Linked DNA regions of Homo sapiens. The protein of the gene in region 2 interacts with the protein of the main gene of each other region in a pairwise test. Each region holds a gene or a part of one and is shown on either strand. Other genes may lie near its edges.

Evidence for each region.
Region 1: the proteins of KRT26 (region 2) and WASHC1 interact in a two-hybrid assay, tested with the Homo sapiens proteins (one large-scale study listed by BioGRID).

Annotation. Positions count from the first base shown.
Region 1 is NC_000009.12:16,509-19,551, forward strand, and holds part of WASHC1 (WASH complex subunit 1), read right to left. Parts: exon of another isoform or gene 2,638-3,043; coding exon of another isoform or gene 2,518-2,637; intron 1,985-2,517; coding exon 1,873-1,984; intron 1,667-1,872; coding exon 1,520-1,666; intron 1,348-1,519; coding exon 1,211-1,347; intron 972-1,210; coding exon 836-971; intron 659-835; coding exon 457-658; intron 369-456; coding exon 210-368; intron 1-209. UniProt on the Homo sapiens protein: Acts as a component of the WASH core complex that functions as a nucleation-promoting factor (NPF) at the surface of endosomes, where it recruits and activates the Arp2/3 complex to induce actin polymerization, playing a key role in the fission of tubules that serve as transport intermediates during endosome sorting.
Region 2 is NC_000017.11:40,769,143-40,773,634, forward strand, and holds the start of KRT26 (keratin, type I cytoskeletal 26), read right to left. Parts: upstream 3,060-4,492; 5' UTR 2,972-3,059; coding exon 2,531-2,971; intron 2,095-2,530; coding exon 2,012-2,094; intron 1,268-2,011; coding exon 1,111-1,267; intron 981-1,110; coding exon 819-980; intron 738-818; coding exon 612-737; intron 1-611.

The DNA.
Region 1 (3,043 bases), on a different chromosome or scaffold from region 2:
TTGTTCAGGCTCCCTCTGCCCTAGAAGTGAGAAGTCCAGAGCTCTACAGTTTGAAAGCCACTATTTTATGAACCAAGTAGAACAAGATATTTGAAATGGAAACTATTCAAAAAATTGAGAATTTCTGACCACTTAACAAACCCACAGAAAATCCACCCGAGTGCACTGAGCACGCCAGAAATCAGGTGGCCTCAAAGAGCTGCTCCCACCTGAAGGAGATGCGCTGCTGCTGCTGTCGTCCTGCCTGGCGCCTTGGCCTACAGGGGCCGCGGTTGAGGGTGGGAGTGGGGGTGCACTGGCCAGCACCTCAGGAGCTGGGGGTGGTGGTGGGGGCGGTGGGGGTGGTGTTAGTACCCCATCTTGTAGGTCTGAAACACAAAGTGTGGGGTGTCTAGGGAAGAAGGTGTGTGAGCAGGGAGGTCCCCGGCCCAGCTCCCATCCCAGAACCCAGCTCACCTACCTTGAGAGGCTCGGCTACCTCAGTGTGGAAGGTGGGCAGTTCTGGAATGGTGCCAGGGGCAGAGGGGGCAATGCCGGGGCCCAGGTCGGCACTGTACATGAGGTCGTTGGCAATGCCGGGCAGGTCAGGCAGGTAGGATGGAACATGGATCTCAGGCACCTGGCCCAGGTCTGGCACATAGAAGTAGTTCTCTGGGACCTGCAAGATTAGGCAGGGACATGTGAGAGGTGACAGGGACCTGCAGGGGCAGCCAACAAGACCTTGTGTGCACCTCCCATGGGTGGAATAAGGGGCCCAACAGCCTTGACTGGAGAGGAGCTCTGGCAAGGCCCTGGGCCACTGCACCTGTCTCCACCTCTGTCCCACCCCTCCCACCTGCTGTTCCAGCTGCTCTCTCTTGCTGATGGACAAGGGGGCATCAAACAGCTTCTCCTCTGTCTCTGCCCCCAGCATCACATGGGTCTTTGTTACAGCACCAGCCAGGGGGTCCAGGAAGACATACTTCTTGTACCTACGGAGGCGACATGGGGGTCAGGCAAGCTGACACCCGCTGTCCTGAGCCCATGTTCCTCTCCCACATCATCAGGGGCACAGTGTGCACTGTGGGGTCCCAGGCCTCCCGAGCCGAGCCACCCCAGTCACCCCCTGGCTCCTGGCCTATGTGCTGTACCTGTGTCTGATGCCCTGGGTCCCCACTAAGCCAGGCCGGGCCTCCCGCCCACACCCCTCGGCCCTGCCCTCTGGCCATACAGGTTCTCGGTGGTGTTGAAGAGCAGCAAGGAGCTGACAGAGCTGATGTTGCTGGGAAGACCCCCAAGTCCCTCTTCTGCATCGTCCTCGGGCTCCGGCTTGGTGCTCACGCACACAGGAAAGTCCTTCAGCTTCTCCTGAGAGGGCCAGGATGGCCAAGGGATGGTGAATATTTGGTGCTGGGCCTAATCAGCTGCCATCCCATCCCAGTCAGCCTCCTCTGGGGGACAGAACCCTATGGTGGCCCCGGCTCCTCCCCAGTATCCAGTCCTCCTGGTGTGTGACAGGCTATATGCGCGGCCAGCAGACCTGCAGGGCCCGCTCGTCCAGGGGGCGGTGCTTGCTCTGGATCCTGTGGCGGGGGCGTCTCTGCAGGCCAGGGTCCTGGGCGCCCGTGAAGATGGAGCCATATTCCTGCAGGCGCCCTGGAGCAGGGTACTTGGCACTGGAGAACACCTGTGGACACAGGGACAAGTCTGAGGGGGCCCCAAGAGGCTCAGAGGGCTAGGATTGCTTGGCAGGAGAGGGTGGAGTTGGAAGCCTGGGCGAGAAGAAAGCTCAAGGTACAGGTGGGCAGCAGGGCAGAGACTGGGCAGCCTCAGAGGCACGGGGAAATGGAGGGACTGCCCAGTAGCCTCAGGACACAGGGGTATGGGGACTACCTTGATGGCCTTCTTGCTGCCCTTGATCTTCTCAATCTTGGCCTGGGCCAAGGAGACCTTCTCTCCAATGGCCTGCACCTGGCTCCGGCTCTGCTCTACCTGCTGGGAGATCCTGCCATGGAGAAGATCACAGAGGCTGGGCTGCTCCCCACCCTCTGCACACCTCCTGCTTCTAACAGCAGAGCTGCCAGGCCAGGCCCTCAGGCAAGGGCTCTGAAGTCAGGGTCACCTACTTGCCAGGGCCGATCTTGGTGCCATCCAGGGGGCCTCTACAAGGATAATCTGACCTGCAGGGTCGAGGAGTTGACGGTGCTGAGTTCCCTGCACTCTCAGAAGGGACAGGCCCTATGCTGCCACCTGTACATGCTATCTGAAGGACAGCCTCCAGGGCACACAGAGGATGGTATTTACACATGCACACATGGCTACTGATGGGGCAAGCACTTCACAACCCCTCATGATCACGTGCAGCAGACAATGTGGCCTCTGCAGAGGGGGAACGGAGACCGGAGGCTGAGACTGGCAAGGCTGGACCTGAGTGTCGTCACCTAAATTCAGACGGGGAACTGCCCCTGCACATAGTGAACGGCTCACTGAGCAAACCCCGAGTCCCGACCACCGCCTCAGTGTGGTCTAGCTCCTCACCTGCTTCCATCCTCCCTGGTGCGGGGTGGGCCCAGTGATATCAGCTGCCTGCTGTTCCCCAGATGTGCCAAGTGCATTCTTGTGTGCTTGCATCTCATGGAACGCCATTTCCCCAGACATCCCTGTGGCTGGCTCCTGATGCCCGAGGCCCAAGTGTCTGATGCTTTAAGGCACATCACCCCACTCATGCTTTTCCATGTTCTTTGGCCGCAGCAAGGCCGCTCTCACTGCAAAGTTAACTCTGATGCGTGTGTAACACAACATCCTCCTCCCAGTCGCCCCTGTAGCTCCCCTACCTCCAAGAGCCCAGCCCTTGCCCACAGGGCCATACTCCACGTGCAGAGCAGCCTCAGCACTCACCGGGCACGAGCGAGCCTGTGTGGTGCGCAGGGATGAGAAGGCAGAGGCGCGACTGGGGTTCATGAGGAAGGGCAGGAGGAGGGTGTGGGATGGTGGAGGGGTTTGAGAAGGCAGAGGCGCGACTGGGGTTCATGAGGAAAGGGAGGGGGAGGATGTGGGATGGTGG
Region 2 (4,492 bases):
CATGGTCATCTTATATTATTTTATTTATTTTTTTGAGACTGTGTCTTGCTCTGTCACCCAGGCTGAGTGCAGTGGCATGATCTTGGCTCACTGCAGCCTCTCTTCCTGTGTTCAAGTGATTCTCCTGCCTCAGCCTCCTGAGTATGTGGGATTACAGGTACATGCCACCACACCCAGCTAATTTTTATATTTTTAGTAGAGATGGGGTTTCACCATGTTGGCCTGGCTGGTCTTGAATTTCTGACCTCAAGTTATCCACCTGCCGTGGCCTCCCAAAGTGCTGGGATTACAGGTGTGAGCCACTGTGCTTGGCCGGCATGGTCATATTTTAAATATTCTCAAGGTAGAAATAATTATTTGTATAAGGTCTGAATATTTTCAATTGAAAATCAACATTTGCAAGATTTAAAAAAATTCCTCTATTGTAAAAAGGCATTTTTCAAGTTTTGGAATTGGTGAGTTTAGGGACAGAATTCTTGATATTTAATATATTTTATACTTTTAGTCATATGTAAATGGTTATACGTACTTGGTGTTATATGTATTTTTATATCTGTATTGACTTATACATATTCACACATATATTCAATTCAATGGCGATTCCTACGTACCACAGCCATGAGGGACTGAAGTTCTATTTCCAGGGTTTGCAGATTGCGTTTTAATTCGGTCAGCTCATTTCTGGCTGCTGTGGCTGCTCCCTCATGATCGGAAATCTGTTGTTGCAGCGTTGCACTCTGAAGTGTAATTGTCGAAAGGGTTAGTGACTGGCCTGATTGTCTCCTGAGCAAGCCCTTTGTAATTTGCCATAGACCTACCCTCTCGTTGAACCAGGCTTCAGCATCTTTGCGGTTCTGCTCAGCCAAGTCCTCATACTCAGCCCTCATGTTGTTCAACAGGACAGTTAGGTCCACTCCTGGGGTTGCATTCATCTCCACGTTCACGTTCCCCCCAGCTGTATATTGCAAGACTTCCATTTCCTAGAAAAGGGATCGGTATTCATCCTCAGTGGAGGATTTTGATTGATGTTCATGCCCTGCTACGAAATGAACAGTGGACTTCAAGAAGGAAATTAGAAACTGTATGAAGCCACTCTGCAGGCTTCCTTACCTCCTCATGACTTTTTTTGAGGTAGGTCAATTCCTCACTGAGGGTCTCACACTGTATCTCCAGGTCGGTTGTACAAAGGGTCAGTTCATCCAACACTCTGCGAAGACCACTGGTGTCGGCCTCAACACTGTGGTGCAGAGCCAGCTCATTTTCATACCTGAAAGATTAGTAAGGCACCTGAGAGTTGTCATCGTAGGCAGGTGCAAAGCACAACTTTTTAAGGTATTTCATATGCTGAAAGATATGATGTTCTGTACATACCTCTGAAGCTTCTTGCAATGGCAAACTGCTAAAATGGTTTGAGATACCTAACAATTCATGAATTGTATTTTGGGGATGTTATTTCTTCAGAGCTGATTTTTGTCATCCAATGTGCTTAACAATTAAATAAAATATTGCTAGATTTTAGATTTTAAAAAATATGTGATTGCTCTTTTTTGTTGTTTGTTTTTGAGACAGTCTCACTCTGTCACCCAGACTGAAGTGCAGTGGCCCCATCTCAGCTCACTGCAACCTCCACCTTCCGGGTTCAAGTGATTCTCATGTCTCAGCCTCCCAAGTAGCTGGGATTACAGGAGTGAGCCACCATGCCTGACTATTTTTTTGTGTGTGTACTTTTAGTAGAGACGGGGTCTTGCCACATTGGCCAGGCTGGTCTCAAACTCCTGACCTCAAGTGATCTGCCTGCCTCAGCCTCCCAAGGTGCTGGGATTACAGGCATGAGCTACTCTATCCAACCATGATAGCTCTTTTTATAACGGCTTATTTAATTCAATTTCTTTATTGATCTAGTCTGGCTTTAGAAAAACATTTTGGTTTTCAAAGCAAAATATATATTCCTTAATCCAATTGTAATATTTTAACTTTTATTAATATAATTAATCAGTTTGTTTTCACCTACTTCAGCCTGAAGTCATCAGCGGTCAGTCTGGCATTGTCATTTTGTAGAACAATGCTGGCATTGCAGATGGTCGCAGAAATAATCTAAATAGGGAAGATTGTGAAAAATGTTAATTACCAAAAGTCAAAGGAGGCTCCAGACTTCAGTGTGATTTTATATCTTCTTAATCTGTCAAACATCTGTTTTAGTATCTTTTTTCTATGTTAAAGAAATCTGGATTTTCTTCAGATAATAAGCATCCAGAGCTTAAGAGCCACATAGATACTTTTACTACTTTTGATCAAATGGTATGAGCTAAATATATGAAAAACGAAGTGACTATATCTGTTTTGAAATGATTTCTTTTTCATTATTTAATTCTACAAGATTTTATTGCCAGGTACTGTGCTTAGCACTGGAAATACAGAGTGAACAAATCTTACATCACATAAATTTGTTAGGCACATTTTATATTTTCTCTTCTTTAAATTATCAACACACAAAGTCTGTAGTAAAAGTATGCAAATCCCTATTTCTTACCTGCCTTTTAAGATCTTCTATGACTGAGAAGTATCTGCTATAGTCATGATCGTGTTCCCGGGAAGAGCCAGGCTCACATTTCTCGTACCAGCCCTTGATCTTCTGCTCCAGGTCTGCGTTGGCCTCCTCTAGAGCATGCACATGGTCCAGGTAGGATGCCAGGCGGTCGTTGAGATTCTGCATGGTCACCTTTTCATTCCCAGAGAGGAGGCTGTGCTCATTGCCAAGAAAACCAGCACAGGCACCACTTCCCAACCCTCCACCGCTATTGCAGAAGCTTCCTCCAGAAGAGATGCCCTCAAGAGTACAAGAAAAGCTGCTTCTTGCTCCCGATCCAACACACACATTCCCAGCCACGAAGCCTGTTCCTCCACCGGACAGCCTACCAGACCCAGTTCGCGAGCAGATCCTCCTGGATCCACCAGAAAGTCGAAAAGACATGGTGGCAGCACAGCCGGGCAACCCCTTCCCAGAAAGAGGAGCAAAGCCAGGGTTCACCTTCCACACTTGTTAGCTCCCTTGGCCTTTTATAGTATTCACTGGGTCATTTCAGTCTTGACTATGCCAGTCTGTAATAAAATTTACTTGCATCCTAATTGTTGTTTTTCACAATTGGGTAATTTTTAACAGCGTCCAGTCTGTAGGTGGAAAGGTGCCCCAAGGATATTTTTTATATATAAAAATGGTGCCAGGTGAAGTAAAACTAAATCATAGCCTCAAAGGCCAAAATTAAATATGACTAAATGTGCATCTTTTTGGCCACTGGAATATTAATAGAATCTAGATTCTCCCCCTGCCACATATAACAAAGAATTAATAATTCCAATGAGAAATGTCTCCTACTTTTGTCCTGTTAACGCTCATAGAGTATTTCTAGTATTCCCACTTCATTGAGTGCTTCCTTTCTTCCTTTCGTTTCTTTTTCTTTTTTCCTTTTTTTAAAGATATGTGGTCTCGCTATGTTTCCCAGGCTGGTCTCGAACTCCTGGCCTCCAGTGATCCTCAGCCTCAGCACCCAGCTCAGCCTCCTGTGGCCAGCATTACAGGTGTGAGCCACTGCCCTGGGTGTCTGGGTGTGTGTTTTCCTTCTTATCAAAACCAGAAAATCTCAGCATCTATTGATCTTTTGGTAGTGGGAGATTTTAAAAGAAATCTACCATTTCTTGAATTGAAAACTGAAGTAATAGAAATCCTGCAGTCCTGCTTATTGTTAATTTCAATATAATTCATGAATATGTGATGATGGTGGAGAATTAATTCGATTGAGATTTCTTGGTTTGGTCCAGGAGCAGGACATCAATTCAACTAACAGTCTCCAAATTGTTCACTTCCCTACCCCTAAATAGTGTTTACTGTCTTTTAGTTTAAATGTATGTATTTAAGACATTAGGAATTATTTTGAGAAGTGAGCATCATATTGATTAGCAAGGAGTAAAATATATAAGGAGGGAGGTGTTTTCATCATTACCTAGAAAACCAGTACTTATAGTACCCTAGAGAGAAGATAAGTTGTCACAGGGAAGTACTCTTTATTCTCTTGCCTTGATGCTCTTGGGAAGTTATCCAGGCTTGGATCATTTCCCTACTGGGCAAATGAAAATAATAGCATCAAAGAGTCTCAAATGAATGTTGAGCAGTTCCAATCATGAATGACGATAAGACAGTTTGAAAGGCACAAACATTTTTAAATGTTAATTATTTAAATTATTATAATAAAGTGGACATGTCAGACAGGGTCGGGTCTCTATCACCTATAATGATACAAATTGATTGGTTAACTAATTATGGGTTTAGTTTTGAAACAGTAATTTTCTTCCGAATGATATTTTTCAATGTTGTGGATAGTGAATCCTTTGGAAAACATCCAACATTATTGTCACTAAATCGTATGGAACATTTAGTGGACTGCATGGATTTTCTAAATCAAAAATATTTAAAAATAAATAATAAATACAGAGCTAT